Linked DNA regions of Homo sapiens: region 1 is linked to region 2. The links come from fine-mapping of genetic effects on gene expression. A gene starts in region 2. The other region holds a variant in brackets. All regions are shown on one strand. Distances are from middle to middle.

What was found. PIP is the estimated chance that this variant, and not a neighbour inherited with it, causes the effect.
Region 1: its variant is fine-mapped to the expression of CTPS2 in cerebellum (GTEx, PIP 0.97).

What each region holds. Positions count from the first base shown.
Region 1 is chrX:16,766,446-16,782,629 of GRCh38, forward strand. It overlaps the pseudogene RNU7-56P. Among named protein-coding and RNA genes, the nearest start is that of TXLNG, 12 kb to the right of the region's middle. RefSeq lists enhancers at 5,033-5,558, 5,559-6,084. The variant G/A (reference allele first, on the strand shown) is at 9,640.
Region 2 is chrX:16,702,242-16,718,425 of GRCh38, forward strand. It overlaps CTPS2 (CTP synthase 2), which reads right to left and starts at 10,428. Exons shown (of 19, transcript NM_175859.3): 1 at 10,094-10,428; 2 at 496-700. The coding sequence starts at 661. RefSeq lists silencers at 9,881-10,150, 10,211-10,300.

The sequences.
Region 1 (16,184 bases), 64 kb after region 2:
AGGCACAGAGGCTCACACCTGTAATCCAAACACTTTGGGATACCAAGGTGGGCGGATCACTTGAACCCAGGAGTTTGAGACCAGCCTGGGCAACAGGGTGAAAGCCTTTCTCAATTAAAAAAAAAAAAAAAAGCCAGGCGTGGTGGCGGGCACCTGGAGTCCCGCTACTCGGGAGGCTGAGGTGGGAGGATGGCTTGAGCCCAGGAGGAGGAGATTGCAGCGAGCCACAATCAGGCCACTGCACTCCAGCCTGGGCGACAGAGCCAGACCCTGTCTCAAACAAACAAATAAATAAATAATAATGAGCTTGTGATGGATGTCTTGATGTCCACATTACCATGCTTTTAGAAATGGACTAAACCAGTCAATCTCCTGGCAGCGGGTAGTCATCCTCAAGCGTGGCCGCACAATAGGACCTCCTGGCAAGTCCAGGTGCTACTGATGCCCAGGCTCCCCTGCAGAGATACTGATTTATTTGGCTGGGGATGTAGCCCTTGAGGGTACAGGGTTGTTTGAAACTCTCCAAGACTTTGTAACAGCAGCTAAGATTGAGAACCACGGGGCCCAGGGAAAGAGACTCAAGTGGAAAGTCAGGAGACTTGGTGAAAATACTCAGCCTGACACACTCAAGCTTCTTTATCAGTACAATGAAAGGGTTGGACTGCACGTTTTTTAACAACCTATGTCTAAAATGTCATCCTATTTTTAAAGAGGCCTTTGTAAAATAAATACTGTTTTAGTTCTGTTTTCAAAGTGGGGTTTTGTTTTTTAGTTTTCTGAAATGTACAATATCTTAGGTTCTCACATAAATATATGCATGTATCTCCACTCCATCCACAAACCCCACTGAATGACAGTAAAGGAATGAAAAGAAAAGCTATACATTCATAGTGACAAAAACAGAAGGGTCAGCAACAGCCAAGTGATACCAAGAACATTTTCATGCTTCAGAAGCCTGGAAATGCTCAGGAATTCTGGAGGTGCAGTAACTCGGAAGGCTGAGGAAAAGTTGGTATCAGGGTGGGCAATTTGTGGTCTCTGCCACAATCTACAACTGAAAATCAAGGGCAAGTGGCGTAAGCATATTGTTATGAGACACAGACACAAACAGACAAAATTGCTAAGTTTTAAATGGCTCCTGAGAAGTGGGAATTGGGGATGTGAAATGGCCTTTGCAAAAAGTGTAACAGTGACAAAGTTATGGCAGTGTGTAGATCTGACCTAACTGACTCCATCTTGCTTCTGTGTTCATTCCTGGGCATAGGCCAAACTAACTTTGGGAAGAACTTTAACTTTGACATAAAGATTGTAACAGCCCTTTCCTGAAACAAACCCCATTCTTGCATGGGAACCACACTGCCTTTGTAGGACTAACACATGAGCCACAATATTATGGTTTAGTGTCACAGCTGTTTTAGAATTTATCTAGCAGGTTTTCTGGTCTTTACTGGAAAGCCCAAGAAAGTAAAAATAGCCGGGTGCGGTGGCTCACGCCTGTAATCCCAGCACTTTGGGAGGCTGAGGCAGGCAGATCATGAGGTCAGGAGATAGAGACCATCCTGGCTTACACGGTGAAACCCCATCTCTACTAAATATGCAAAAAAAAAAAAATTAGCCGGGCGTGGTGGCGGGTGCCTATAATCCCAGCTACTCGGGAGGCTGAGGCAGGAGAATGGCATGAACCCAGGAGGCGGAGGTTGCAGTGAGCCAAGATCGCGCCACTGCACTCCAGCATGGGCGACAGAGCGAGACTCCGTCCAAAAAAAAAAAGAAAAAGAAAGTAAAAATAATAATAATAATAATAAAAGAAAAATAGCCCGGGCACGGTGGCTCATGCCTGTAATCCCAGCACTTTGGGAGGCTGAGGCAGGCAGATCACCTGAGGTCAGGAATTCAAGACCAGCCCAGCCAACTTGGTGAAACCCTGTCTCTACTAAAAATACAAAAATTAGCCAGACATGGTGGCAGGTGTCTGTAATCCCAACTACTCAGGAGGCTGAGGCAGGAGAATCGCTTGAACCTGGGAGGCAGAGGTTGCAGCGAGCCAAGGTCGTGCCACTGCACTCCAGCCTGGGCAACAAGAGCGAAACTCTGTCTCAAAATAAATAAATAAATAAAAATAAAAAATAAAAAAATAAAGAAATTATGGTTCTGGAGTCTTGCAGCTAGAGGCCACAAGATTCTAAACCTCCTCAATTGCTCCTAGGGATAACATCACTACCCACTACCATAAAACCTAAGATTAGGTGCTGAAGATATTTTTCAGTCCATGGATTAGCTGGTGCCACCCAGATCAATAAACTGGCTCATCTGGTGTTGTGGCCCCCACCCAGGAACCGACTCATTGCTAGAGCACAGCTTCGACTGACCTCCTAGGATTTCATCTCTGACCCGACCAATCAGCACTCCCCACTCCTTAGCCCCATACCCACCAAATTATCCTTTAAAAACCTCAGTTTCCAAATCTTCAGGGAGACTGATTTCAGGAATGTGAAACCCAAAAATCTGAGACAGGCCTCAGTTAATTTAGAAACTTTATTTTGCCAAGGTCGAGGATGTGTGCCTGTGACACAGCCTCATGAGGTCCTGACAACATGTGCCCAACGTGGTCAGAGCACAGCTTGGTTTCATACATTTTAGGGAGACATGAGACACCAATCAACATATGTAAGATGAACATTGGTGTGGTCCGGAAAGGCGGGACAACTGGAAGCAAAAGCGCACAACTCGAAAGGGGAGAGGGCTTTCAGGTCACAGGTAGATGAGAGACAAACCGTTGCATTGAGTTTCTGATTAGCTTTTCCAAAGGAGGCAATCAGATATGCATTTATCTCAGTGAGCAGAGGGATGGCTTTGAATAGAATGGGAGGCAAGTTTGCCCTGAGCAGTTCCCAGCTTGAATTTTCCCTTTAGCTTAGTGATTTTGGGGGCCCAAGATATTTTCTATTCACAGTAATAATAAAACTCCGGTCTCCTGTTCAGCCAGCTCTGTGTGTATTAAACTCTATTGCAATTCCCTTGTTTTGATAAATCGGCTCCATCTGGGCAGTGGGCAAAATGAACCCATTGGGTAGTTACAAAGAGAGAAGCACTGGTCAAGGGTCTCTGTTGTTTTAAAAGCCTTGTGTAATTTGACTTCTAAAATTAAGGACATGCATCTTTTTTTTTTTTTTTTTTTTGAAACGGAGTCTTGCTCTGTCGCCCAGGCTGGAGTGCAGTGGTGCGATCTCGGCTCACTGCAACCTCCGCCTCCAGGGTTCAAGCTATTCTCCTGCCTCAGCCTCTCGAGTAGCTGGGATTACAGGCACCTGCCACCATGCCCAGCTAATTTTTGTAGATTTCTTTTAATACCTAATTTTGACACGGGTATGGGGAAAAAGCATAAAAATACTGTAGATGGGAGTGTAAAATTGTTAAATCTTTCCAAATGGCAGTCGGGTAACAAGCATCAAAATGTTAAATGTGAGGAACATTTAACCCGACATTTCTACTCTTGGAATTTATGCTAAGGAAGCAATTAGACAAGCAAGACTTTGAGTATACAATAGAAAAATTGGCAGGTACCTATATGTCATACACCAGAATCTTGATTTGAACAAATGGTGGTTCATCCACATGATGGAATTGTGTGCAAATATTTTAAGTGATATATTTTATACCCACCAGATGGTCAAAAATGTAGAAGTCTGAAGGCTGGGTGCAGTGGCTCACGCCTGTAATCCTAAGACTTTGGGAGGCTGAGGTGGGCAGATTGCCTGAGCTCAGGAGTTGAAGACCAGCCTGGGCAACATGATGAAACCCCATCTCTACGAAAATACAAAAATTAGCTGGGCATGGTGGTGCGCGCCTGTAGTCCCAGCTGCTTGGGAGACTGTGGTGGGAGAACCACTTGAACCTGGGAGGCAAAGGTTGCAGTAAGCCGAGATCGTGCCACTGCACTCCAACCTGGGTGACAGAGTAGACCCTATCTCAAAAAAAAAAAAAAAAAAAAAGTAGAAGTCTGAAAATATCAAGAGTTAGTAAGCATGTGAAACAACAGGAACATCGACGTGCTATTGGCGCAACTATGCACTGGCACAATCTCTTTGGAAGTAAGCCAAAACTGGCATTACTTCAATGAAAAGTTGAATATGTACTTCTCTTTGCCCAGCAAGCAGTTCCTCTCCTAGGGAATACCAAATGGTATTAACCACTTATGAAAATAACTACCATTACTTAGTAAAGTGGAAGATAAAAACATCATATGGCATGTGCTAGTAGGTGGCACATGCACGACTGTCAATAAAAGTGATGTTCTAGTGACCTCAGGCTGCACCCAACCCAAATGTGCATCAACAGTAGAATGGAATTATAATGACAGTGTGATAACCATAGCAAAGAGCCAAGAACACGAAAAAATAACAGCTGTGCACAGTGCTGTGAGTGAATCTATGAATCTCATAAATGTAATGTTAAACAGAAAATGCAAGATTGGAGAGAAGACCTACGTAAACTCCAAATACAGGTACAACTATACTACATATGTAGTAGAACTAAAAGAAACAGCTACCATAAAAGTCAGATATTACATAGCATAAGAGAAATCAAGAAACTACAGCTACATAAAACAAGGAGAAGACAGGTCCCAACATTACACACCTCAATAAAACACCCAGTTAAAACTCTACTCACTGGGCCTGGTGGCTCATGCCTATAATCCCAGCACCTTGGGAGGCCAAGGCTAGCAGATCCCTTGAGCCCAGGAGTTCTATACCAGCCTGAGCAACATAGTGAGACCCCATCTCTAATAAAAATACAAAAAATTCACCAGGTATGGTGGCATGCACTTGTAGTCCTAGCTACTCGGGAGGCTGAGATGGGAGGATCACTTGAGCCTGGGAGGTCAAGGTTGCAGTGAGCTGTGATTGCACCACTGTACTCCAGCCTGGGCGACTGGGCAACTGTCTTAAAAAACAAACAAACAAACAAAAACCCAACAAAGACTGTCTCAAAAAACAAACAAAAAACCCCCAACAAACTCTACTTAGTTTTATTTTTGCTTAAATCTTTAATAAAAGGGAAAGCCAGGCACAGTGGCTCATGCTTGTATCCCCGCTGTGGGAGGATCACTTGAGCCGAGGAATTTGAGACCAGCCTGACCAACAAAGTGAGACGCTGTCTCAAAAAAAAACAAATAAAAAAAAACAAATAATTAAAATGTAAAAATAAAAAACTAGCTGGGCATTTACCATTGTGGCAAGAGGGTGGTCTAAGCCCAGGAGGCCGAGGCTACAGCGAGCCATATTTGTACCACTACAATGCAGTGTAGGTAGCAGAACAAGATCCTGTCTCATAAAATAGTAACAGAATTAAAAAAAAAAAAAAAACGACTAACTCTATTAATCTAAAAACAAGAAAAAACAACAGCAAGCTTGGAAAGGCAGTTGCCAGGTAACAGCCACCTCTGGTACACTGAGGGTGAAATTAAGCCCAGCTCAAATACATACAGCACTTCTTTCAGGCGAATGTGTAAGGAAAAGTATCATTCTTCAAAACAGCAGGTTTAAAGGACACCTACGGCTTTTAACTTGTAAATATATTGCATGCAGTGCACCATGGTTATGCAAATGAAGCTGAGTCATTGCCCTATAGATTAATGCCGTAGCTCCCAAGCATGGCTGCAGCCTGCAAGGTAGGGAAAAGGCCCAGTCCAGAGTCCACCCGGGAAACTCAACCAATTTGTTTTGTTCACCGATGCCCTGACTGTGATTTCTTTTGGATAAAGGATTTCTTGAATGCTTTCAAAAATGACGTCCAAGCGCTACATTTGACATAAGAGAAGGTTCACAATATAATGTTAAATGAAATATAAAAGGCAATTTACAAAAATATTTAATACGATTACACTTTTTCTTCCAAAAATGCCCGTGTATGTGTGTGTTGGGCATGCTTTTGTGTTACCGGTGGAGGGTGTCCACGTTCTTGGCGTTTTGAACAAAGAATTGGACAAAACGCACAAAGCAAGGAAAGAATGAAGCAACAAAAGCAGAGATTTACTGAAAACAAAAGTACATTCCACAAGGCTGGAGCAGGCCTAGTACAGGGGCTCAAGAGCCCCAGAATTTTCTGGAATTTAAATACCCTCTAGGGGTTTCCCATTGGTTACATGGTGTACACCCTATGTAAATGAAATAGCGGCCTGCAATCAGTCTGTTTGGTTGTGGAAAGCAACCAATCAGAGGATGAAGTGTAGTTACAAAGTTACACTCACTCCTATGCAAACGTCTGATTGGCTACAGAAAGCAACCAATCAGGCTGGGCGTGGTGGTTCACGCCTGGAACCCCGGCACTTTGGGAGGCCAAGGCGGGTGGATCACCTGAGGTCAGGAGTTTGAGACCAGTCTGGCCAACATGAGGAATTATCTCTACTAAAAATAAAAAATTTAGCTGGGCGTGGTGGCACGTGCCTGTAATTCCAGCTACTTGAGAGGCTGAGGCACAAAAATCGCCTGAACCTGGGAGGCAGAGATTGCAGTGAGCCAAGATCGTGCCACTGCACTCCAGCCTGGGCCACAGAGGTAGACAACTTCCCCACCCCCCTAAAAAAAAAAAAAAAAAAAAAAGAAAGAAAGAAAAGAAGGCAACCAATCAGAAATGCTTTCAATTTTCCATCTGCCGCACAGAAAGGTGGGGTGGGGGTGGGGTGGATTTGCAAAGGGAGTAGTTTACAATCCTTTTGTTATTTACCTGTGGAAAGTTGGGATGTTCCTTTTGACTTAGTTTTTTTTTTTTTTTTTTTTGAGACGGACTTCACTCTTATTGCCCAGGCTGGAGTGCAATGGCACGATCTCGGCTCACCGCAACCTCCGCCTCCCGGGTTCAAGCGCTTCTCCTGCCTCAGCCTCCTGAGTAGCTGGGATTACAGGTATGCGCCACCATGCCCGGCTAATTTTGTATTTTTAGTAGAGACAGGGTTTCTCCATATTGGTCAGGCTGGTCTCAAACTCCCGACCTCAGGTGATCTGCCTGCCTCGGCCTCCCAAAGTGCTGGGATTACAGGCGTGAGCCACCGCGCCCGGCCATTGACTTAGTTCTAGAAAGCCAGCTTGAATCGGCCTTAGGTTCCCTGCCTCCGGACCCTATTCTCCTGCCTCATATGCATAGAAAAGACTCGGGAGGCTTACACCAAAATGGCGGCTATATCTTTTTTTTTTTTTTTTTTTGAGACGGAGTTTCGCTCTTGTTGCCCAGGTTGGAGTGCAATGGCGTGATCTCGGCTCTCCGCAACCTCCGCCTCCCGGGTTCAAGCGATTCTCCTGCCTCAGCCTCCCAAGTAGCTGAGATTACAGGCATGTGCCACCACACCGGGCCAATTTTGTATTTTTAGTAGAGACGGGGTTTCTCCATGTTGGTCAGGCTGGTCTCGAACTCCCGACCTCAGGTGATCCGCCCGCCTTGGCCTCCCAAAGTGCTGGGAGTACAGACGTGAGCCACCCGCACTTGGCCATCTTTTTTTTATATATTTTTTTAACTATTTGTGGTTATGTTTTTGGGAATTTCTGTGCTTAACATAGTAGGAAAAATAAGAAAAATCGGTAATAATTTACATTTCCTTTCCTCAGACCTGGAAGCAGGCATTTCTTCAAGGAATCTTGATTCCTTTTGATGGGAAAAGCTATTTACTCTTCAAGAATTGTCAGCCTGGCGTGGTGGCTCACGCCTGTAATCCCAGCACTTTGGGATGCCAAGGCAGGAGGATCACCTGATGTCAGGAGTTCAAGACCAGCCTGAACAACATGGTGAAACCCCGTCTCTACTAAGAATACAAAATTAGCCAAGCGTGGTGGTGGTGCATGCCTGTAATCCCAACTACTTGGGAGGCTGAGGCAGGAGAATTGCTTGACCCCAGGAGGCAGAGGTTGCAGTGAGCCAAGATGGGGCCATTGCACTCCAGCCTGAGCAACAAGAGTGAAACTCTGTCTCAAAAAAAAAAAAAAAAAGAATTGTCCTGCAGACTGGGGGCAGTGGCTCACACCAATCCCAGCACTTTGGAAGGCCAAGGAGGGAGGATCCTTTGAGCCCAGGAGTTCAAGACCAGCCTGGGCAACATAGTAACACCAAGTCTCTACCAATAAAATGAAATAAATAAATAAAAATTAGCCAGGCATGGTGGTGCATGCCTCTAGTCCCAGCTATTTGGGAGGCTGAGGTGGGAGGATCACTTTGCTACCCGGGAAGAGTGTCCAGGTTCTTGGCGTCTTGAGCAAAGAATTAGACAAAACGCACAAAGCAAGGAAGGAATGAAGGGATTTATTGAAAATGAAAGTACACTCCACAGGGTTTGAGCAGGCCCAAGCATAGCTCAAAGGCCCTGTTTCAGAATTTTTGGGAGTTTAAAAATAACCTCTACTTGAGGTATGCCCTATGTAAATGAAGAGGATAAAGTAAAGTTACAATCATTTACTTGGCCTACGCCCTATGGAGAGGCTATTTCCTGTCATAGCTGAAGTGTGAATCGGCCTTATATTCCCTACCTCCAGATCCTATTTTCCTGCCTCAACTTGAGCCCTGGAGGTAGAGGCTGCAGTGAGCTATGATCACACCACTGCACTCCAGCCTTGGTGACAGAGCAAGACTTGTCTCACAAATTAATAATTAAATAAAAAGTAAATAAAATATGACATTGATCAAAACTTCATTAGTAGTATTAGAAGACAAAGTTGAGATCATCTACAAAGTACAGATGTTTCCTGACTTATGATGGCGTTATGTTCCAATAAACCCATCAGAAGTTGAAAATATCATAAGTGGAAAATGCATTTAATACACTTAACCTGGCCGGGCGTGGTGGCTCATGCCTGTAACCCCAGCACTTTGAGAGGCCAAGGCGGGTGGATCACCTGAGGTCAGGAGTTCGAGACCAGCCTGGCCAACATGGTGAAACCCCTTCTCTACTAAAAATACAAAATTAGCCAGGTGTAGTGGCACATGCCTGTAGTCTCAGCTACTCGGGAGGCTGAGATAGAAGAATTGCTTGAACCTGGGAGGTGGAGGCCACAGTGAGCCAAGATGGTGACACTGCACTCCAGCTTGGGCAAGACAGAGCAAGACTCCATCTCGGAAAAAAAAAAAATACACTTAACCTACCAAACATCATAACTTAGCCTAGCCTACCTTAATGTAAGCTCATAATACTTTGTTTTTTTGAGACGGAGTCTTGCTCTATTGCCCGGGCTGGAGTGCAGTGAGACGATCTCGGCTCACTGCAACCTCTGCCTCCCAGGTTCAAGTGATTCGCGTGCCTCAGCCTCCCAAGTAGCTGGGATTACAGGCGCCAGCCACCACGCCCGGCTAATTTTTGTATTTTAGTAGAGATGGGGTTTCACCATGTTAGCCAGGTGTGTCTCGAACTCCTGACCTCAGGTGATCTGCCCACCTCGGCCTCCCAAAGTACTGGGATTACAGGCGTAAGCCACTACTCCTGGCCAAGCTCATAATACTTATATTAGCCTACAGTTGGTCAAAATCATCAAACACAAAGCTGTTTTATAATAAAGTGTTGAATATCTCATGTGCTTTATTGAATACTTGTACTGAAAGTGAAAAACAGAATGGTTGTATGGGTACTCAAAGTCAAATTCATACAACTTTGGCACCATC[G/A]CAACATCAAAAATTGTAACCCTGGAACTGTCTGTAGCAAAACAGGATATAGGAAAATAGAAGAGAAAAGATAAGAAACATGGAGCAGGGCACCGTGGCTCCCACTGAGGTGGGAGGATCACTTGAGTCCAGGAGTTTGAGACCAGCCTGGGCAACAGAGCAAGACCCTATCTCAATTTTAAAAAAAGAAAAAAGAAACATAAAAAAGAAATTATTAATAGGATACTATACAACTAGGTTGTGAATAATATCTACATGAAAATAATGTAAAAAAAATTAAGATATTAAATTAACAAAATGAAAACAACCATTTAGAGAGGATGATGTGATGATGGGAGGAAGTGAGCATCTGTGTGTGTGTGTGTGTGTGTGTGTGTGTGTGTGTGTGTGACTGTGAGTGAAAAAGCATAGACCCTCTTCCCTAGAAGCAAATCTATATATATCTTTCTGTGATTTCAGAATCAGCTTGATGGCAAGTGACAGAAAAATCCAGAATTACAGTGGTTTAAACTGGATGCTGATTTCTTTCTTTTTCTTTTTTCTTTCTTTTTTCTTTTTTTTTTTTTTTTTTGAGTCTCACTCTGTCGCCCAGGATAGAGTGCAGTGGCACAATCTCAGCTCACTGCAACCTCTGCCTCCTGGGTTCAAGGGATTCTACTGCCTCAGCCTCCCGAGTAGCTGAGATTACAGGCTTCCACCACTATGCCTGGCTAATTTTTTGTATTTTTAGTAGAGACGGGGTTTCACCAGGTTGGCCAGGATGGTTCCCCTTTCTTTTCTCTTCTCTTTTCTTCTCTTCTCTTCTCTTTTTTCTTTTTCTTGAGACGGATTCTTGCTCTGTCGGTGGTGCGATCTCAGTTCACTGCAACCTCCACCTCCCAGGTTCAAGCAATTCCCCTGCCTCAGCCTCCCAAGTAGCTGGGATTACAGGCACGCGCCCCTACATCCAGTTAATTTTTTTTTTTTTTAAGATGGAGTTTCACTCTTATTGCCCAGGTTGGAGTGCAATGGTGCGATCTCAGCTGACCGCAATCTCCGCCTCCCGGGTTCAAGCAATTCTCCTGCCTCAGCGGCCCAAGTAGCTGGGATTACAGGCATGCGCCACCACGACTGGCTAATTTTGTATTTTTTAGTAGAAACGGGGTTTCTCCATGTTGGTCAGCCTGGTCGTGAACTCCCAACCTCAAGTGATCTGCCCACCTTGGCCTCCCAAAGTGCTGGGATTACAGGCATGAACCACCGTGCCTGGCCTAATTTTTGTGTTTTCTTTTTAGTAGAGATGAGATTTCACCATGTTGGCCAGGCTGGTCTCGAACTACTGACCTCAGGTGATCCACCTGCCTTGGCCTCCCAAAGTGCTGGGATTACAGGCGTGAACCACCGAGCCCAGCCCTTTTCTTTTCTCTCTTTTTTTTTTTTTTTTTTTGAGACAAGGTCTTACTCTGTCGCCCAATTTGACGCTGTAGTGGGCTAGGATGAAAACCACTATACTCCAGCCAGGGTAACACAGAGAAAGAGATTCTGTTTCTTAAAACAAAATGAAACAAAAAAAAAAACTTGAAAAAATTGTTCGGCTGGGCGCAGTGGCTCACACCTGTGATCCCAGCACTTTGGGATCACAAAATACAAAAATTAGCTGGGCGTGGTGGCTTGCACCTGTAATCCCAGCTACTCAGGAGGCTGAGGCAGGAGAATCACTTGAACCCGGGAGGCGGAGGTTGCATTGAGCCGAGAGCGTGCCAACTGCACTCTAGCCTGGGTGACAGAGCAAGACTCCGCCTCAAAAAAAAAAATTGTTTTAATTGTTTTGAGACAGGGTCTCAGTTTGTCAAAACAAAAAATTGTTTTAATTGTTTTGAGACAGGGTCTCACTTTGCATTCTAGCCTAGGTGACAGAGCGAGACTCTGTCTCAAAAAAAAAAATTGTTTTGTTTTGAGACAGGGTCTCACTCTGTCACCCAGGCTGGAATGCACTGGCATGATCACAGCTCACTGCAGCCTCAACCTCCTAGGCTCAAACGATCCTCCTGCCTCAGCCTCCCAAGTAGCTGTGACTACAGGTGTGCACCACCACACTTGGCTAAGGCTAATTTTTTATTTTTTGTAGAGATGGGGTCTCCCTATGTTGCCCAGGCTGGTCTTGAACTCCTGGCCTCAAGCAATCCCCCTGCCTCGAACTCCCAAAGTGCTGGGATTACAGACATGTGCTACCACTCCTGGCCCCGAGATTTTCAATAAAGCCTAAACCTATTTGTAGTTTGTATTTTTCTTTTCCATTGTCTCTATACATGAACATTGTTTCCATGTCCTTGAAGTCTATAATTATAGGCGAGACTTGGGGAAGTATATCAAAACAAAATGAATGAATCCCAATACTCTGAAATATGCAATATACGTATTCGAATTTTTGAAACGCACATACTCTCTCCCAATAGTCCATACATGAGAAGAGTTTTTATTTTAAAAATCCTCTTTCTGCTAGAGCTGGCACCCTGGTGTGTGCCAATCTAATAGTACACTCCATAGCCTGCCATCAGTATGCCTGAGTGATCTGTGTATAAAGTATAATCATTTTCTAAATCTTTCAGTGTCTGCCAGAAATGTGGACATCTATAGCAAATGCAGAAACTGGCCAAATTCCTACAAGGACTAAAATCAGGGTTAGCTCAGAAAGATGGTATTGTGTAATCATATTAAACAATAAGCTTTTTGTTCTATGAAGAGGCAAACACTCTTTTTCACTACCTACAACCCCAATAGTATGCAACAAACATGAAATTCAACTCTTTTGATGAAACAATACTCTTGGCTGATTTAAAAGTTAGTAGGAGCTTTTCTTTCTGTGAAAGTACTCTGAGGTGGACAAGTCAGACTAGTGTGGCTAATTTAACTTCTGTTGACCCTTTAGACACAGCTCAGATGTCACCTTAAACCATCCTTAAACCTCCCCACCACCAGTAGAAAATAACCCTCAAGAGGTTACCCTGCAATACCTCCATTTTATAAATTACTTTATTGTTTGTTGTACATGTGAGTGTTCAGTGTTGGCCTGGGTACCCCTTATTCTAAATCAAGGTATGCCTGGTGACTAATACAGTGCTCCTGTTTAACTGATGAATGAAAACTTTCTATTGCCACCAAGTTTATCCTGGAATGACCTTGGTCCCTTGGCTGCTGGAGGGTCTACACAGTGTTGCAGAGGGACACTGCTGTCAGAAAACTCTCCAAGATGTCACAAGAAGGGATAGGATATCACCTTGGGGAATTGAAGGTTTGGTCCTCATCTGAACAGATTCAGAAAACAGATTTCTTAATGCAGTTACCTATTCAGGGGATCTTTTTCTCAATAAGTATGTGTGGAGAGCTTTCTCTGTGCCTGGGTTTTTTTGTTTTGTTTTTTTTTTGGTGGAGTCTTGCTCTGTCGCCCAGGCTGGAGTGCAGTGGTGCGATCTCGGCTCACTGCAACCTCCACCTTCAGGGTTCAAGCAATTCTCTTGCTTCAGCCTCCGTAGTAGCTGGGATTACAGGCGCCCACCACTATGCCTGGCTAATTTTTGTATTTTTGATAGAGGCGGGTGTCAACATGCTGGCCAGGCTGGTCTTGAACTCCTTACCTCAAGCGATCTGTCTGCCTCGGCCTCCCAAATTGCTGGGATTACAGGCGTGAACCACCGTGTGCAGACTGTGCCTGGCATTCTGCTGGGCACTGGGAATATAGGAGTCTTATGGGCACAGTCCTTGCCCTCACTTTGTTTACCATCTGGCTGGGGGAAAGAGTCAATTAGACAAACCACTGCCTTGAAGAGTGGGGACTGGCCTGGTATGGGAAGTACAGTATGCTAGGGGTACATAACACAGGCAACTAAGATATCCTGGGACCAGTGGGGCTTCCTGGAGGGATCACCCAGAGTACACTCTCTGTCAGGGAATAGGTACACATTAACCAGAGCTGCTATATAAAGTCGAATATGCCTGTAATCACAGCACTTTGGGAGGCCGAGGTGGGTGGATTGCTTGAGCTCAGGAGTTTGAGACCAGCCTAGGCAACATGGTGAAACCCCATCTCTACCAAAAATACAAAAAATTAGCCAGGCATGGTGGTGCACTCCTGTAGTCCCAGCTACTTGGGAAGCTGAGATGAGAGGATCGCTTGAGCCTGGGAGGTGGAGGTTGCAGTGAGCCAAGGTCGTGTCACTGTACTCCAGCCTGGTCAACAGAGTGAGACCCCGTCTCAAAAATAATAATGGCCAGGTGTGGTGGCTCATGCCTGTAAATCAGCACTTTGGGAGGCTGAGGTGGATGGATTACCTAATGTTATGAATTCGAGACCAGCCTGCCCAACATGGTGAAACCCCATCTCTACTAAAAATACAAAAATTGGCTAGGTGTGGTGGTGGGTGCCTGTAATTCCAGCTACTTGGGAGGCTGAGACAGGAGAATCGCTTGAACCCGGGAGACGGAGATTGGAGCGAGCCGAGATTGTGCCATTGCACTGTAGCCTGGGCAACGAGAGTGAAACTCTGTCTCAAAAAATAAATAAATAAGTAAATAAAATAATAATAAAGTCAAAATGTCCCTTTGTTAACAATGAGCAAATGTAAGTGTCTCATGGAGTTAAAAGGTACACATCTACATTCTCTCCCTGTGGTCAGACCACAGACCTGCTTCCAATTGTAGGAAGCACAATTACAATGGGAAGGTGGTTAGGTAAGAAATCAAATCAATTCCCATTGATCAAAGGTGTTAGGATAACTGGAGCCTCCATCCCCACGTAAAGGATAGCCTTACAAATAGGATGATCATTTTTGAAGTCCTCTTTTTGACCAAGATTCTTTGTCTTCCAAAAATTGCTTAGATGGGCTTTGGCAGCCTGGCCTTCCTTACTCTCTCCCTAAGTTTCTAGGTTTCCTCTCTTCTCATAGCCACATTGCTTCTTTTTTTTTTTTTTTCCCGAGACGGAGTTTTGCTCTGTCACCCAGGGTGGAGTGCAGTGGCCCGATCTCGGCTCACTGCAGCCTCCGCCTCCGGGGTTCAAGCAATTCTTTTGCCTCAGCGTCCCAAGTAGCTGGGATTAGTAGCCACCACGCCCAGCTAATTTTGTATTTTTAGTAGAGACAGAGTTTCTCCATGTTGGTCGGGCTGGTCTCGAACTCCCGACCTCAGGTGATCCACCCGCCTCGGCCTCCCAAAGTGCTAGGATTACAGGCATGAGCTACCGTGCCCAGCCCCACATTGCTTCTTTAGCTATGTTAATATCTGTGATCATATTATAGGGTATGATGAGGCCTGTAATTTACTGTCAGCAAAGATAGAGAAGGAAGAGGTGGAGGAGGAGTGTGTTGTGTTTAGAGCTGGAAATGACCCCACTTAGGACTTTATACACCAGGGGTGGTCAGGAGTCCATATTTCCTATTCTAGCCACTACAGATGCTTCTGTTAGCCATAGCTCAACCAATAACAGAGGCTTTCTTAAGTAGCAAAATGAAGGTTAGAAATGGGTTTTCTTGCCAGGCGCAGTGGCTCATGCCTGTAATCCCAGCACTTTGGAAGTTGAGGCGGGCGGATCACCTGAGGTCAGGAGTTCGAGACCAGCCTGACCAAGGTGGAGAAACCTCGTCTTTACTAAAAATACAAAATTAGCTGGGCGTGGTGGCACATGCCTGTGATTCCAGCTACTTGGGAGGCTGAGGCAAGAGAATGGCTTGAACCCAGAAGGCTGAGATTGCAGTGAGCCGAGATCGCGCCATTGCACTCCAGCCTGGGCAACAAGAGCGAAACTCTGTCTAAAAAAAAGAAGAAAGAAACGAGTTTTCTTTTTTCTTTTTTTAGACAGGGTCTCGCTCTTGTTGCCCAGGCTGGAGTGCAGTGGCACAATCTTGGCTCCCTGCAACCTCCACCTCCCAGGCTCAGGTGATCCTCCTGCCTCAGCCTCCCAAATAACTGGGACTACAGGTGTGCACCACCACACCCAGCTAATTTTTTGGTATTTTTTGCAGAGATGGGGTTTTGCCATATTGCCCAGGTTGGTCTTGAACTCCTGGAGTCAAGCGATACACCCACCTTAGTCTTCCAAAGTGGTGGGGTTACAGGTGTGAGCCACCGTGCCTGGCCAGAAATGGGTTTTCGTAGGTGAAATTAGTAGCTTATTAGCTTTAGCTAGTATAACAGGCATTAGAGGCTGGGCATGGTGGCTCACACCTGTAATCCCAACACTTTACAAGGCCAAAGCGGGAGGATCTCTTGAGCCTACGAGTTTGAGACCAGCCTGGGCAACATAGGGAGACACCCTCCTACCATTTCTACAAATATATATATATATATATATATATATATATATATATATATATTTAATTAGCCAGGTGTAGTGGTACACACCTGTGGTCCCAGCTACTTGGGAGGCTGAGGCAGGAGGAACACCTGAGCCCAGCAGGTGGCGGCTGCAGTGAGCCGTGATGGCACCACTGAAATCCAGCCTGGGTGACAGAGTGAGACCCTGTCACCAAAAATAAATAATAAAAATAAAAATAACAGCATTAGAATGGGCT
Region 2 (16,184 bases):
GACAGGGTTTCACTGTGTTAGCCAGGATGGTCTCGATCTTCTGACCTCGTGATCCACCTGCCTCGGCCTCCCAAAGTGCTGGGATTACAGGCATGAGCCACCGCACTGGGCCTTATAAAAAGTTTTTTAAAAATAGCATGTAAGGGCTAATGCCATTTTAAAAATAAATCAAATATACTCATACATCAAAATGTCACCATTAATAATAGTTACTCCAGGCAGTGGGAAATGTTAAGAGAAACACACTACCTTTATGTTAAAAATAAAACAGAATCTGTAGTGCAAAAGATACAATGTTTCCAAAAGGGATGATTAATTTGGAATGTCATCAGAGGTATGAACAATGTATCAATGACCATGAGAAAATTCACATATTCATAGCATACGATCTAGTCACTCTAAATCTGGAACTACATCCTAAAGAAATTACCCAAAATGGAAGAAAGAATGCAGTTGAGCCTAGTGCTATAAGGGGGAAGTGGTTCACTTTCGTACCGTGTTCATAAGGTGAAAAAGTGCCAGCATCGATGTTAATATAGGGGTCGATTTTTATGGCAGTAACTCGGAGTCCACATGATTTTAGAATCGTTCCAATGCTGCTGGCAATGATCCCTTTACCAATGCCTGAGATGACCCCACCCGTGACCAGGATGTACTTCATTGGCAGAATAGTGGCTGGGTGCCAACACCCAGATATAATCTGAAAGGCAATAAAATTATGGATAAGGAAAGAGAAATATTTAAAACTAGTAAAGCAGACAGTGTATTCAACCAGAATTAATTTTTTTTTTTTTTTTTTTTAGACATAGTCTTACTGTCACCCAGGCTGGAATGCAGTGAGTGGTGCAATCATGGCTCACTGTAACCTCTGCTCGCTGGGTTCAAGCGATCCTCCCACCTCAGCATCCTAGTAACTGGGACTATAGGTGAGCACCACCACGCCCTGCTAATTTTTGTGGGTTTTTTGTAGAGACGGAGTTTCACCATGTTGCCCACGCTGGTCTCCAACTCCTGAGCTCAAGCAATCCACCTGCCTCAGCCTCCCAAAGTGCTGGGATAACAGGCATGAGCCACCGCACCTAGCTCAGAATTTTTTTTTTTTTTTAAGAGACAGTGTCTCCCTATGTCACCCAGGCTGGAGTGCAGTGGCATGTTCATAGCTCACTGCAACCTTGAACTTCTGGGCTCAAGCAATCCTCTTGCCTCAGGCTCCAGAGTGGCTGGGACTACAGGCACGTGCCACGTCTCCCAGCTAATTCTTAAAACATTTTTGTAAAGACAGGTTCTTACTATGATGCCCTGGCTGGTCTCAAACTCCTGGGCTCAAGCAATCCTCTTGCCTTGGCCTCCCAAGATGCTGATTACAAAAGTGAGCCACCATGCTTCGTCTCACCAAAATTTCAAAAGCACACAGCAGTTTTCTGTCCAAACTAAATACTTGAATTTTTTGAAACAAAGTCTTATCTTCTAGGCTTTTTATTGTTGTCACTATACAGAAAGCTGTAGATACCTTCTGCAAGCAAAGTGCCTAGGTCTGTTGCCCTGGGTTTCCAAAGACCTCAACTCTATCATGCAACAAACTTCATCATGATAAACCAAATTTCTCTAGGATTCACAGGCATGCTAAAATGTTTAAGAGCTCAGACTCCAGTGTCAGACTGATCTGTACAAACTGTACCTGGGCAAGTTCTTTTTTTTTTTTTTTTCTTTTTTTTTAGACAGGGTCTCACTCTGTTGCCCAGGCTGGAGTATAGTGACACAATCTCGGCTCATTGCAACCTCCACCTCCCCGGTCCAAATGATTCTCATGCCTCAGCCTCCCAAGTAGCTGGGATTACGGGCATGCACCACCATGCTGGGCTAAGTTTTGTATTTTTAGTAGAGATGGGATTTCACCATGTTGGCCAGGCTGGTCTCGAACTCCTGGTCTCAAGTGACCACCCACCTCGGCCTCCCCAAGTGCTGGGATCACAGGCGTGAGCTACCACGCCCGGCCTTGGGCAAGTTATTTATCCTTTCTGTGCCTATTCCTTCATCTGTAAAGTGGAAAATATACAACAATCTCTAGGAATATAATTTGGTGTTAAAAAAAAATGGGCTACCAAGCCATGAAAAAACATGGAGGAATCTCAAGTGCATATTACCAAGTGAAAGAAGCCAATCTGAAAAACATACATACTGTATGACTTCAACTATATGACATTTTAGAAAAAGCAAAACTAGAGAGATAGTAAAAAGATCAGTGGTTGTCAGCGGGTAGGAGGGAGAGAGGGATGAATAGTCACAATACAAAGGAATTTTAGGGCAGTGAAACTATTCTGTATAATACTGTAATGATGGATACATGTCATTACACATTTATCCAAACCCACAGAATGGACAACAGGAAGAGCGAACCCTGATGTAAATAAACTACAGACTTTCCGCCGGGCACGGTGGCTCACACCTGTAATCCCAGCACTTTGGGAGGCTGAGGCGGGCAGATCACCTGAGGTCGGGAGGTCAAGACCAGCCTGACCAACATGGAGAAACCCCGTCTCTACTAAAAATACAAAATTAGCCAGGTGTGGTGGTGCATGCCTGTAATCTCAGCTACTCCGAAGGCTGAGGAAGAGAGAATCGCTTGAACCTGGGAGGCAGAGGTTGCAGTGAGCCGAGATCAGGCCATTGCACTCCAGCCTGGGCAATGAGAGCGAAACTCCGTCTCAAAAAAACAAAACAAAAACCTATGATCTTTAGGCAAAAATGATGCGTCAATGTAGGTTCACTGATTATAACAAATGTACCACTCTGCAGGTGCAGGATGTTAATAGTCAGGGAGGCTGGGCATAGCAGTGGGGGAGAGGGTGTATGGGAACTCTGTACTTTCCACTGAGTTTTGCTGTGAGCCTAAAATTACTCTAAAAAAAAAAGTCTTGCCAGGTGCAGTGGCTCACTGCACTCCAGCCTGGGCAACAGAGCGAGACTCTGTCTCAAAAAAATAAAAAATAAAAACTGTTTTTAAATAAGCAATATTAAAATAATTACAACTCATCTAGCTCACAGATGCTGACTGACTGAGTCCTGTTACACCAGTCAAAACTACAGCTTTTATTGGACAAGAGACTGATTTGAGTAACTTTCTCCTGATAAGACCACCAACCATGGACTGGCTCTGGCCAGTTTACAGAGGCTGTGGACTTGCGTGCCTTCATGTCCTGGAAAGATCTTTTGATGCATAGGGCTTAACTGAAATTCATTTAAATGTTAAGTCTCCATCCCCAAAGTGAACAGGGGTCATATGCTATTTTCATGTTTATTCAATACACATGAGTCAGGACCACCTTCATGAATATTCATAGCTCCTCCTGTAACCTGTTGAATATGTATATTTAGCCAACCCATTCAGCATAAAACTGAACCCTCCTTCAGAGTGCCTGCCTCTGGTTTTGGGAGGCCAAGGTAGGAGGGTCACTTGAGGCCAGAAGTTTGAGAACAGCCTGGGCAACATAGCGAGACCCTGTCTCTTTAAAACGTGTGCTTCCCAGCCTGTGGGATGGCCCCTTTGCAGGCTGTTACAGCCTGCAAAGAAATAAAGTAAACCAGGCGTGGTGGCTCACCCCTGTAATCCCAGCACTTTGGGAGGCCGAGGCAGGTGGATCACGAGGTCAGGAGTTAGAGACCAGCCTCACCAACATGGTGAAACCCTGTCTCTACTAAAAATACAAAAATTAGCTGGGTGTGGTGGTGCACACCTGTAATCCTGGCTACTAGGGAGGCTGAGGCAGGAGAATGGCTTGAACCCAGGAGGCGGAAGTTGCAGTGAGCCGAGATTGTGCCACTGCACTCCAGCCTGGGTGACAGAGCAAGACTCTGCCTCAAAAAAAAAAAAAGAAAGAAAGAAAAGAAAAGAAATAAAGTCACCAGGCACAGTGGCTCACGCCTATAATCCCAGCACTTTGGGCAGCCAATGCAGGCAGATCACTTAAGATCAGGAGTTCGAGACCAGCCTGGCCAACATGGTGAAACCCTGTCTCTACTAAAAATAAAAAATTAGCCAGGTGTGGTGGCAGGCACCTGTAATCCCAGCTACTTGCGGGGCTGAAGCACGAGAATCACTTGAACCTGGGAGGCAGAGGTTGCAGTGAGCCCAGATCGTGCCACTGCACTCCGGTCTGGGCAACAGAGTGAGACTCCGACTCGAAAGGTAAGAAAAATTTTGGCCAGGTGCAATGGCTCATGCCTGTAATCCCAGCACTTTGGAAGGCTGAGGCAGGCGGAACACCTGAGGTCAGGAGTTTGAGACCAGCCTGGCCAACATGATGAAACCCTGTCTCTACTAAAAAATACAAAAGTTAGGCTGGGCATAGTGGCTCACACCTGTAATCCCAGCACTTTGGGAGGCCAAGGCGGGTGGATCACCTGAGGTCAGCAGTTTAAGACCAGCCTGGCGAACATGGTGAAATCCCATCTCTACTAAAAATACAAAAATTAGCCGGGCGTGGTTGTGGGCACTTGTAATCCCAGGTACTCAGGAGGCTCAGGCAGGATAATTGCTTGAACCTGGGTGGAGGAGGTTGCAGTGAGCTGAGATCGCACCATTGCACTCCAGTCTGGGTGACAAGAGCGAAACTCTGTCTCAAAAAAAAAACAAACAAACAAACAAACAAAAATTAGCCGAGCATGGTAGTATGCGCCTGTAATCCCAGCTACTCGGGAGGCTGAGGCAGGAGAATCACTTGAACCTGGGAGGCGGAGGTTGCAGTGAGCTGAGATCACGCCACTGCACTCCAGCCTGGGCAACAGAGTGAGACTCTGTCTCAAAAAAAAAAAAAGAAAAGAAAATGTTTTAAAAAAGAAAGTCTCCTTTCTAAATTTATAGATCTTGTGATTTTTAAGTTGACAGTCATAAGGAAAATTTATTTGACTTTTCTGCTGCTTTCTGATTCAAACCCTTTTGTTTTATAGGAAGCCCAATAACTTGATTTTCTTTACTTTGAGTACTATTGTTTTTCCCTTGAGTGTGTACAGGGGCCTTCTGCTCTTGTAATTTCACCATGTATGTGAAAGTAGACCATAAACAGTATTATTTGTGTACTCATGGCAGGCAAATGGGCAACTGAGTAAGACCACAATATAAAATTACAGTTACAGAAAAAGAAAAATAATGCCAGGCATGGTGGCTCACATCTGTAATCCCAACACTTTGGAAGGCTGAGGTGGGAGGATCTCTTGAGGTCAGAAGTTCGACACCAACCTGGTCAACATAGTGAGACTCCCTCTCTACAAAAGAAAAATAAAACATTAGCCAGGTGTGGTGGCACACACCTGTAGTCCCAGCTACTGGGGAGGCTGAGGCAGGAGGATTGCTTGAGCCCAGGAGGTCAAGGCTGCAGTTAGCCAAGTGATTGTGCCACTGCACTCCAGCCTGGGTGACAAAGCAAGATCCTGTCTCAAAAATAAAAAGAGAGACCAGGTGCGGTGGCTCATGCCTGTAATCTCAGCACTTTGGGAGGCCAAGGCGGGCGGATCACCTGAGGTCAGGAGTTCAAGACCATCCTGGTCAGCGTGGCGAAACAATGTCTCTACTAAAAATATAAAAAGTAGCCGGGCGTGGTGGCGTGTGCCTGTGGTCCCAGCTACATGAGCTGCATGGGAGGCTGAGGCAGGAGAATCACTTGAAGCCGGGAGGCGGAGGTTGCAGTGAGCTGAGATCACACCACTGCATTCCAGCCTGGACAATAGGGTGAGACTCGGTACCAAAAAAGAAAAAATAAAAAGAGAGAGAGAGAGAGACAGTAACTAACAAAAGGTAATAACTATAAATTTCACTTTCATTTGTAATTTCACAATTTTTTTACATACTTGGAAATTCAGCACAAATGCATTCGGGTAGGAACAATTTCAGTTACCCACTTCTTATTTGTCCTCCTCAAAGGAATGCCCATTCTGATTTTGTGGTTTCCTCTGCTTACCTTTCAAAACAAACTATCTTAACTAAAGTTATCACACGTCAGAGCTGTGAATTCCATTTGAACTAGCTGACCATGGTCAGGCTGAGTAAACTGAAGCTATTCAAAATATACATGTTCCATCCCAGATGGCCTCCCTAAGTCCCTGGGCCTACCTTTCTCTACACAACACAGTTGATCACATTCAATGCCATCGCACATCTTCACTAGTCACCAGGGCACCCACCTATCTGACCTATGTTTATAGCTTAAAACATTGTCAATCCAAACCCAGAGCCAAGATCACACCATTGCACTCCAGTCTGGACAACAGAGTGAGACTCCGTCTGAAATAAATAAATAAATAAATTATATATATACATATATTACATATATAATGTTTATTTGAACATCTATTACATGCTTGACATATTTCCAAGTCCTAGGAATATGGAGATAAACAAAAAGACAAGGTCTATGTTCCACTGGACTTCACCTTTCCTGCAGGATTAAGGGGCAAATAAACTGTGCTTTAATTATACCTTATTCTGGCACTGTTATACTGTTCAAATGACTCTCTTTGTAAAAGTTACCGAAATGGAAAAATGCCGTAGAGGTATGGTGAAGAAAACTGGCATACATTCGTACAAGTCACATTATGCCTAATAAATTTTTGTATAAGAAAATGCTTCTTTGGGAGGCTGAGGCAGGCGGATCACCTGAGGTCAGGAGTTCGAGACCAGCCTGGCCAACATGGTGAAACCCTGTCTCTACTAAAAATACAAAAATTAGCCAGGCGTGGTGGCAGGCGCCTGTAATCCCAGCTACTTGGGAGGCTGAGGCAGGAGAATCGCTTGAACCCGGGAGGCAGAGGTTGTAGTGAACCCAGATAGCACCATTGCACTCCAGCCTGGGGGACAAGAGCGAGACTTCGTCTCAAAAAAAAAAGTTAAAAAAAAAGAAAATGCTTATGTGGCCGGGCACGGTGGCTCACGCCTGTAATCCCAGCACTTTGGGAGGCCAAGACGGGCGGATTGCCTGAGCTCAGGAGTTCGAGACCAGCCTGGGCAACATGGGGAAACCCCATCTCTACTAAAATACAAAAAATCAGCCAGGTGTGGTGGCGTGCACCTGTAATCCCGGCTACTCAGGAGGCTGAGGCACGAGAATTGCTTGAACCTGGGAGGTGGAGGTTGCAGTGAGCCAAGATTGTGCCAGTGCCCTCCAACCTGGGCAACAAAGTAAAACCGTGTCTCAAAAAAAAAAAAAAAGGAAGAAAGAAAATGCTTATGTTACCTGAAAAAGAGAGCAGACTATAAAATTGAATATATTATTGACTATGTTTTTTTAAACTAAGATCTAAATTTTATTTGTCACCACTAAGATTTCCATCTTATGGCCGGGTGCAATGGCTCACGCCTGTAATCCCAACACTTTGGGAGGCCAAGGCGGGCGGATCACAAGGTCAAGAAATCAAGACCATCCTGGCCAACATGGTTAAACCTTGTCTCTACTAAAAATACAAAAATTAGCCAGGCGTGGTGGCACCCACCTGTAGTCTCAGGTACTCGGGAGGCTGAGGCAGGAGAATCACTTGAACCCAGGAGGTGAAGGTTGCAATGAGCCAAGATCGTGCCATTGCACTCTACCCTGGTGACAGAGTGAGACTCTGTCTCCAAAAAAAAAAAAAAAAAAAAAAAAACAGATTTCTATCTTAATTTGGTCAAAGATACACCATGTTATGTCTTAATATATTTAGGTGATTAGGTTGTATGTGTTGGGGCTCAGAAAACAAAACCCAAAAATGAAGGCCTCAGAAGCAAAGTTTCTCTCTGACCTTCTCCTGCCCTCCTGTCTCTCACCCCTCATACTCCCCCAAGGCAAGTCATAGAAACTAGAACCCTTTTCCCCCCAAAGCCAGCCATAAAGCCAAAAAATATGACTCTAACCTTCCTCTCAACCACCTTTCTATACAACAGCTGGCCATAAAGAAATTAAGACCCTCATTCCAAAGAGGTCCTACCCCATACTGGGGAGGAAGAAACGCTACAACAGAGAGGCCAAGAAGAATGTGGACAGGCTTTGCTGGGTTTCCCCACTCAGTCTATTTCCATTAGCTCATCTGTCCCTGCTTCATGGACTCCAAGCATAAAATCAGATCATTTCCCTTGCATCTTTAAGGGGTTTTCATTTCTGAAGGCTCCCATGTCACATAAACCTATGATTCAATAAATTATTATGCTTCTCTCTTGTTAATCTGTCTCTTGTTTAAGGCTGTCAGCCGTGACCCTTATGATATCAGCTCTTTCCTCCCCTACATAAGCAATTGCTCATTTTCTGTTTTTTCAAAAACACAAGATACCTTTTTAAAGCACCTTGGATATTTTAGAGACCTTTTGTAAAAATGCAACTTAATACCAAGGGGACACCTAATTCTTCCTACTTTGTTGTTGTTGTTGTTGTTTTGAGTTGGAGTCGCGCTCTGTCACCAGGCTGGAGTGCAATGACACGATCTGGGCTCACTGCAACCTCCGCCTCCCGGGTTCAAGCAATTCTCCTGCCTCAGCCTCCCAAGTAGCTGGGACTACAGGTGCATGCCACCATTCCCAGCTAATTTTTGTATCTTTAGTAGAGACAGGGTTTCACCATGTTGTCCAGGATGGTCTTGATCTCTTGACCTCGTGATCCGCCCACCTCGGCCTCCCAAAGTGCTGGGATTACAGGCATGAGCCACCATGCCCGGCCCTCTACTTCTTTTAAGCACACAAGTAAGTTTAACAAAGTTTCAAAGGTTCAGGGAAAGGCTGGCCCTGTTTTAGATCACTTCCTCCATTGAGGATTGTTTCTGGTGTCAAGACAAGTTTTTCATTTACTCTTACATGCAGTGAGCAGAACCAAGTGTTTATAGGATAGCACAGTGTAGAGCTGTGCTGTCTCCACTACCTAATAAAAAATATTACACAGCCAGGTACGTAATTTTAAGTTTCTAGTAGCCATATTAAAAAAGTAAAAAGAATCAAATGAAGTTCATGTTAATATATGTTATTTAACCCAATGTAGCCAAAAATGTTATCACTTTTAACGCACAATGTAAGAATGTATTAGTGAGATATTTGACATCTTTTTTGTGTACTAAGCTTTCAGAAATCAGGTGCCTGTACTCAGAGCACATCTCAGTACGGATTTTGCCACATTTCCAGTATTCAATAACCACATGTGACCAGTGGCTCCCACATTAGACCAGGCAGGCCTAGAGCAAATAAAAGCACCGGAAGCACCCAGAGACACCTTCTCAGTGATGGCCATTTAAAAAGTAATGTTAGACACAAAAGAGTACTTACCTGATGATCTTGTTCTATGAAGTTCTAGAACAGTCAAAGCTAAGCTATGATAACAATCAGAACCGGGGTTGAGTGCGGGGCCTGGGGTGGATTGACAGAAAGGAGGTACCAGGGAACTTTGCAGGGTGAAGGAAATGGTCAATGTTCACTTTGGGATAATGGTTACAGGAGTGTATAATTTGTCAAATCCCGTCGATTTGCACACTGAAAATGGGACATTTTGTTGTATATAAACCATACATACAATTCTTTTTTATGTTGCCCCCAAAAAAGCTATTCTGTAGCAGCAGCGTAGTTCGGCACTATGCGCCCTAACCATCTAGTACGGGGAAAACGCGGGGGTCGTTGTTTAAGGGGTGCACTGGGACCGGGGAGAGGACAGAAAGGCCATGTTACCGGCGCTGATCACCAGCCTCGCAGACCCCCGCTCGGGGCTTCACTTCCGCCAACGCCATCTCAGGGCTCTCCTGGCTCCCGAGGGCCGGGAGAAGTGGGGATCCGGGTGCGGGCGCTGGCGCGGGCGGAGGCGGGAAGAAGCGCGTCCCGGGGACGCGCGGGACAGGCTCCAACCGCACTGGGCACGGGCCAGCGTTCCCCAGTCCCCGCGCCACACCCGGCAGCCGAGGTCTGCGAGCGCGGGGCTGGCGGCCGGACCCGACTCAGCGCTGGGCAGGGAGCCGGCGCCATCAGAGAGCGGACAAAGGAGCCCGGCCCCACAAGTGCACCGGGGCTGGGGGTGCAGGGCGGAGAGGCCCTGGGGACGAGGGATGGCCCGGGCGCCGAGGCCCTGGGGGTCTGGGACAGGCCCAGAAGGGAAGTTACCTGCGCGGTGGTGGTAGCACCGGGGAGGGTGGCCGGTGGGCACGGCGGGCTCCACCCCGCGGCTGGCCTGGCGCTCACCTGTCGGGCTGGGGAAGGGGTCGCTGCCGGGGCTGTCCAAAGCCGCCCCCGGGATCTTCCCACCGCCCACACGGGCCTCGGGGTGCGCGGCGCCCTCCTCGCCCACCTTCCCCTCTCCTCCCTGCTGCTGGCCCAGCTCACTCACGCTGGTGAGCTTGGGGTTTGCACCCGGGTTTGTGCAATGGTCCAAAACAAGCGCCTAAAAAGTGATTCCTCCAGCACAGGCAGCTCCCGTCACCCTCCGCTCTGGACGCACTGGGCCCCAGGCCTCGCCCAGCCCGGGGACCGCTCCTCCCTCCCGTGGCTCACTTTGCAAAGGCACTTCGAGTGCGCGGGTGAACTCCACGCTTCCCGGGGAACCCCGGCTTCCTGGCAAGCCGAGACCCTCGCTCGGGTCCTCCCGTGCAGATCTCACCCTTGTAAAGAACTTCACTGGTCACAAACGCTTGTGGATCCCCTACTACGCCCCAGGAACTGCAGGAGCGCTCAGGAGAGAAGGAAAAGGAAAGAGAATGCCTGCCTTTGAGGAGCTAGCTCACAGTCTGGTGGGAGGTCCACCCGTCTGTTGGAACCAGTAAGGTTCCCTAGAACAATACTTCTGCAGCAAAGAGTTGCGGGGGTGCAGTGAGGGGAGGAAGGCAATTAAGGCTTCCAAGAGTGACTTTTTTTTTTTTTTTTTTTTTGAGACGGAGTTTCGTTCGCCCTTTTTGCCCAGGCTGGAGTGCAATGGCGCGATCTGGGCTCACTGCAACCTCCGCCTCCCGGGTTCAAGCGATTGTCCCTGCCTCAGCCCCCGGAGTAGCTGGGATTACAGGCGGATGCCAAAAAGCTCGGCTAATTTTGCATTTTTAACAGAAACGGGGTTACATCACGTTGGCCAGGCTGGTCTCGAACTCCCGACCTCAGCTGATCCTCCTGCCTTGCCTCCCAAAATGCTGGGATTACAGGCTTGAGCCACTGCACCCCGCCCAAATACTCTAAAAAGTCACTCTTCGGGTGACTCACGCCTGTAATCCCAGCACTTTGGGAGGCCAAGGCAGGCGGATCACCTGAGGTCGGGAGTTCGAGACCAGCCTGGCCAACGTGGTGTAACCCTGTCTCTACTAAAAATGCAAAATTAGCCAGGTGTGGTGGCACCTGCCTGTAATCCCACCTACTCCGAAGGCTGAGGCAGAGAGAATCGCTTGAACCTGGGAGGCAGAGGTTGCAGTGAGCCGAGATCAGGCCACTGCACTCCAGCCTGGGTGACAGAGGAGACTTTGTCTCAAAAAAAAAAAAAAAAAAGAGTATTGGAGGATGATTGGTGCTGGGAACGGATACAGGAGGTTTTTCGGGTGAAGGCAAGAAGCCAACCACTGAAGGAAGCTAACATGGACAACAGAAGGGTCTGAAGTGAGATGGAAGGTTTTAGGAAAGTGGTGGAAATTTCGCATAACCAGTGTGAGATGCTAGAGCGACAAGTTAGACAAGAGTCACTGAAGACCTAGTGGAGTTTAGAAACCATCATCGTGTAGTGGTGTCCAGCTATAATCTGCTATAATCTGGCAAGGTATCTACAGAAATATAGCTCTTAGTTATGAAACCCAAGTTTCCTGCTTGCATAGAATAGAAGGACAAGAGGGTGAGGAGGTGGAGGGCACAGAAAGACTGCGATTGCAGTGATGGGCCAGAGCTCTAGTCCTAGAGGACAGGAACTGTTAATAAAACCAGCGGGGAGCTGATGGACTGGGAGACAGATGAGAGAAGGGCTCCAAGGCCAGGGCCTCTGAGGAGAGGACTGGCAAACTGGCAGCAGAGAGTGTGGTGCTGGAGTTCAGGCCTTCAAATGGATATTCCAGGAAATGAGACAGTTTGGGGTGTGGCAGCTACAATGGAATAGAAAAGTGAGATGGGCATCACTGGCCTTGGGTTTAGTGCCCACAAGGCTGGTATGTTGGACATCGAGGGTCCCAAAAGGATGGCAGGAGGTGGAGGAGTCAATCGAGGTCAAGGAACTTTAGAGAATTGGGGTTGCGGGGTGGGTAGTGAGCCTGAAACTAATAGATGACTGTGACAAGGAAAGGGAGAAGGTTGCAGAACAAATGTCAGTGCCTTTCAAGACACAATGGAGGCCTGGCGCCATGGCACACCCCTGTAATCCCAGCACTTTGAGAGGCTGAGGCAGGCAGATAGTTTGAGTCCAGGAGTTGGTGACTTACCTGGACAACATGGCAAAATCCTGTCTCTACAAAAAATACAAAAATTATCACGTGTGCTGGCATGCATCCCAGGGGAGGCTGAAGCAGGAAGGTCGCCTGAGCCCAGGAGGTCAAGGCTGCAATGAGCTATGACCGTGCCACTGCACTCCAGCCTGGACGACAGACTGAGACCTTGTCTCAAAAAAAAAATCAATTAATTAATTTAAAAAAATAAACACGACCAGGCATGGTGGCTCACCCCTGTAATCCCAGCACTTTGGGAGGCCGAGGTGGGTGGATCACGAGATCAGGAGATCGAGACCATCCTGGTTAACACGGTGAAACCCCGTCTCTGCTAAAAATACAAAAAATTAGCCGGCCGCGGTGGCGGGTGCCTGTAGTCCCAGCTACTCAGGAGGCTGAAGCAGGAGAATCTCTTGAACCCGGGAGGTGGAGGTTGCAGTGAGCCCAGATCGCGCCATTGCACTCCAGCCTGGGCGACAAGAGCGAAACTCCATCTCAAAAAATAAAATAAAATAAACACAATGGAGTTTCTCCCCACCAAGGATGAAAGAACAGTGTTGTGGAGGAAGCAGTAAGGAACTTGGAACAATGATGTCAATTTCTGGGAAAATAAGCAGACGCTTCACTCAGCAGGGTAGCCTTGGGGGAGATCCAGGTCTCCATGGGTGTTGGGGGGTCCAGGGGAGGGACAAGGAACCACCTTGTCAAAAGGCTAGAGGCATAAACAAGTCTTCCAGAGGGCTCAGGGGAAAGAATGTTTGTGAAATGGGTTGGTATGGGTGCTAATACTTAATACCTGCCGCATATGTAAGGTTTCCTTCCACAGTTCCGTCTTTCATTATCTTTTTAGAACCAGGACAGTTGTTATGATCCCCTTTTTAGAATGAGGGACCTGAGGTTCAGAGATGTGAAATGTCTTGACCAAGGGTACGTTAGTTAATATGAGTGGCAAAGCCAGGACATCAATGCACAGCCAGACTCCACCACAGGATGTGAGGCCTGATCCAATTGTCCTATTCTATTCATCCATGAGGCTAATGGATAAAAGATAATCTGTATATACAAAGGGCTCATTATAATAACTATTGTATTATTAATCTCAAATGGGAAAAATAATGAGCTGGAAAACAAATTTGATAACAGGGTGTGGATTGACTGAATTGTGTGGGATAAGGATGTATCCTCATTCAACAAGTGTCAGTTCATGGCCCACCACCAGCATAACATCTTGCTGAATCCGCACAAGATGATTTTTTTTTTTTTTTTTTGAGGTGGGGATTCATTCTTGTCGCCCAGGCTGGAGTGCAATGGCATGATCCCAGCTCACTGCAACCTCCACCTCCCGGGTTCAAGTGATTCTCCTGCCTCAGCCTCCTGAGTAGCTGGGATTACAGGCGCCCACCACCACGCCCGACTAATTTTTGTATTTTTAGTAGAGACAGGGTTTTACCATGTTGGCCAGGCTGGTCTCGAACTCCTGACCTCAGGTGATCCACCTGCCTCGGCCTCTCAAAGTTCTGGGATTACAGGCATGAGCCACCGTGCCTGGCCAGATGATTTTTTTAAAATGAAAATGAAGCCCATCATTAAGTTGATTGCTTATGTTCTTGTTTTGTAATCTTTTTTTTTTTTCTTTTTTTCAGTCGGGGTCTCGCTCTATCACCCAGGCTGGAGTGCAGTGGCACGATCACAGCTCACTGCAGCCTCCAGCTCCCAGGCTCAAGCAATCCCCCTGCCTCAGCCTCCTGAGTAGCTGAGACGACAGGTGCAAGCCACTACACCCAGCTCATTTTTTATTTTTTGTATAGACAGGGTCTCGTTATGTTGCCCAGGCTGGTCTCAAACTTCTAGACTCAAGCAATCCTCCCACCTCGGCCTCACAAAGTGCTGGGATTACAGGCATGAGCCACTGTGCCCAGCCTAATCTCTTATTTTTAAGAATTCTACCTTTCAGAAGAGTTGTAAAACTGTCTATCCCTTGGTGACCACAGTGTTCACCACGATTTTGAGTGTACCTTAAGATAAAGCAGAGTAAGGCTGAAAGGGCTGGGCCCTATCTCTGCTGTGGGAAGGACCAGCACTATACTTCTTTTGCAAGTGAGGGAACTTGAGGGGCAAAAGGATGAGTAAAACGTCAAGTTTAGGCCGGGTGCGGTGGCTCACTCCTGTAATCCCAGCACTTTGGGAGGCCAAGGTGGGTGGATCACCTGAGATCAGGAGTTCGAGACCAGCCTGGCCAACATGGTGAAACCCCGTCTCTACTAAAAATACAAAATTAGCCAGGTGTGGTGGCAGGTGCCTGTAATTCCAGCTATTTGGGAGGCTGAGGCAGGAGAATTGCTTGAACCCAGGAGGCAGAGGATACAGTGAGTCGAGATTGTGCCACTGCACTTCAGCCTGGGCAAGACAGAGTGAGACTCCGTCTAAAAAAAAAAAAAAAGTCAAGTTTATTCACCTACTAGATGGTGGAATTAGAAGCCCATCCTAGGCTTCTCACTCAAATTCCAGGCTCTGTTCAATCATACTTGAAGCAAATATCCTATTCCCGAAAGTCTCAACCACTTTCAGGTTCTCATTGACTTAATAAAGCCTAGAAAGGCATTGATCCTAAGACATCTCCTGACTTCAAAGCTGAATCAATACTTGGACTCTAAAAACAGGCTGGAATGTCATCAATGCCACTGAACTGTACACTAAAAAAAATTTATTTTTACTTCAATTTAAAATATTAATAGTGTAATACACCAAAAATATATACCATTGAATTGTACACTTTAAACAGGTGAATTGTTTAAATCTCAGCTGTTTGGGGGAAAGAAAAAAACAGGTTGGGCTTGATAACCTAAAATCCTGGACCTGAATAAAATATAAATATAAGTCAGGCTGGAAAACTGGACAGCAGGGAAATCAGAGTTGTAATCAATTCCTCATGTATTCCCTCAGGTCACCGGAACTGTCCTCCTCTTCTCAAAATAGTTGGGGAGCAAGGAATCATGGATGTCCTTCCACAATTAATGACTGAAGACTGTGCTTGGGAAATGTGTCCATGAACTCCCTGCTCTGAAGGGGTAGTTATGCACATCACTAGTTTTTTGTTAGTTTTACATGTTATTGTGGGAAAAGTTAAAAATATAAAAAAGACAAATGTTTAACTACCCAGCTTCAACCCATGGCCAGGCTTGTTTCATCTATATCCCCCCCCATTCCCCCCACCCCCATCCTGTATTAATTTGAAGCAAATTCCAGACGTGGCATCATTTCTTTTTTTCTTTTTCTTTTTTTTTTTTTTGAGACGGAGTTTTGCTCTTGTCATCCAGGCTGGAGGGCAATGGCAGGATCTCAGCTCACTGCAACCTCCGCCTCCTGAGTTCAAGTGATTCTCCTGCCTCGGCCTCTCGAGTAGCTGGGATTACAGGCGCCCGCCAGCACACCCAGCTAATTTTTTGTATTTTTAGTACAAACGGGGTTTCACCATGTTGGTCAGGCTAGTCTCAAACTCCTAACCTCAGGTGATCCACCCATCTCGGTCTCCCAAAGCGCTGGGATTACAGGCGTGAGCCACTGCGCCTGGCCCAGATATGGTATCATTTCTTTGGTAAAATCTCAATATGTGCGGTGGATAAACAGATGGATAAACAAAACGTGGTGTATACATACAAGGGAATACTATTCACTCTTAAAAAGAAATTGACACAGCCTTGAGGACATTATACTAAGTGAAAGAAGCCAGTTACAGACAAATACTGAATGATTCCACTTATATTAAGGTATCTAGTCAGATCCATAGAGACAAGAAGTAGAATGGGGGGAGG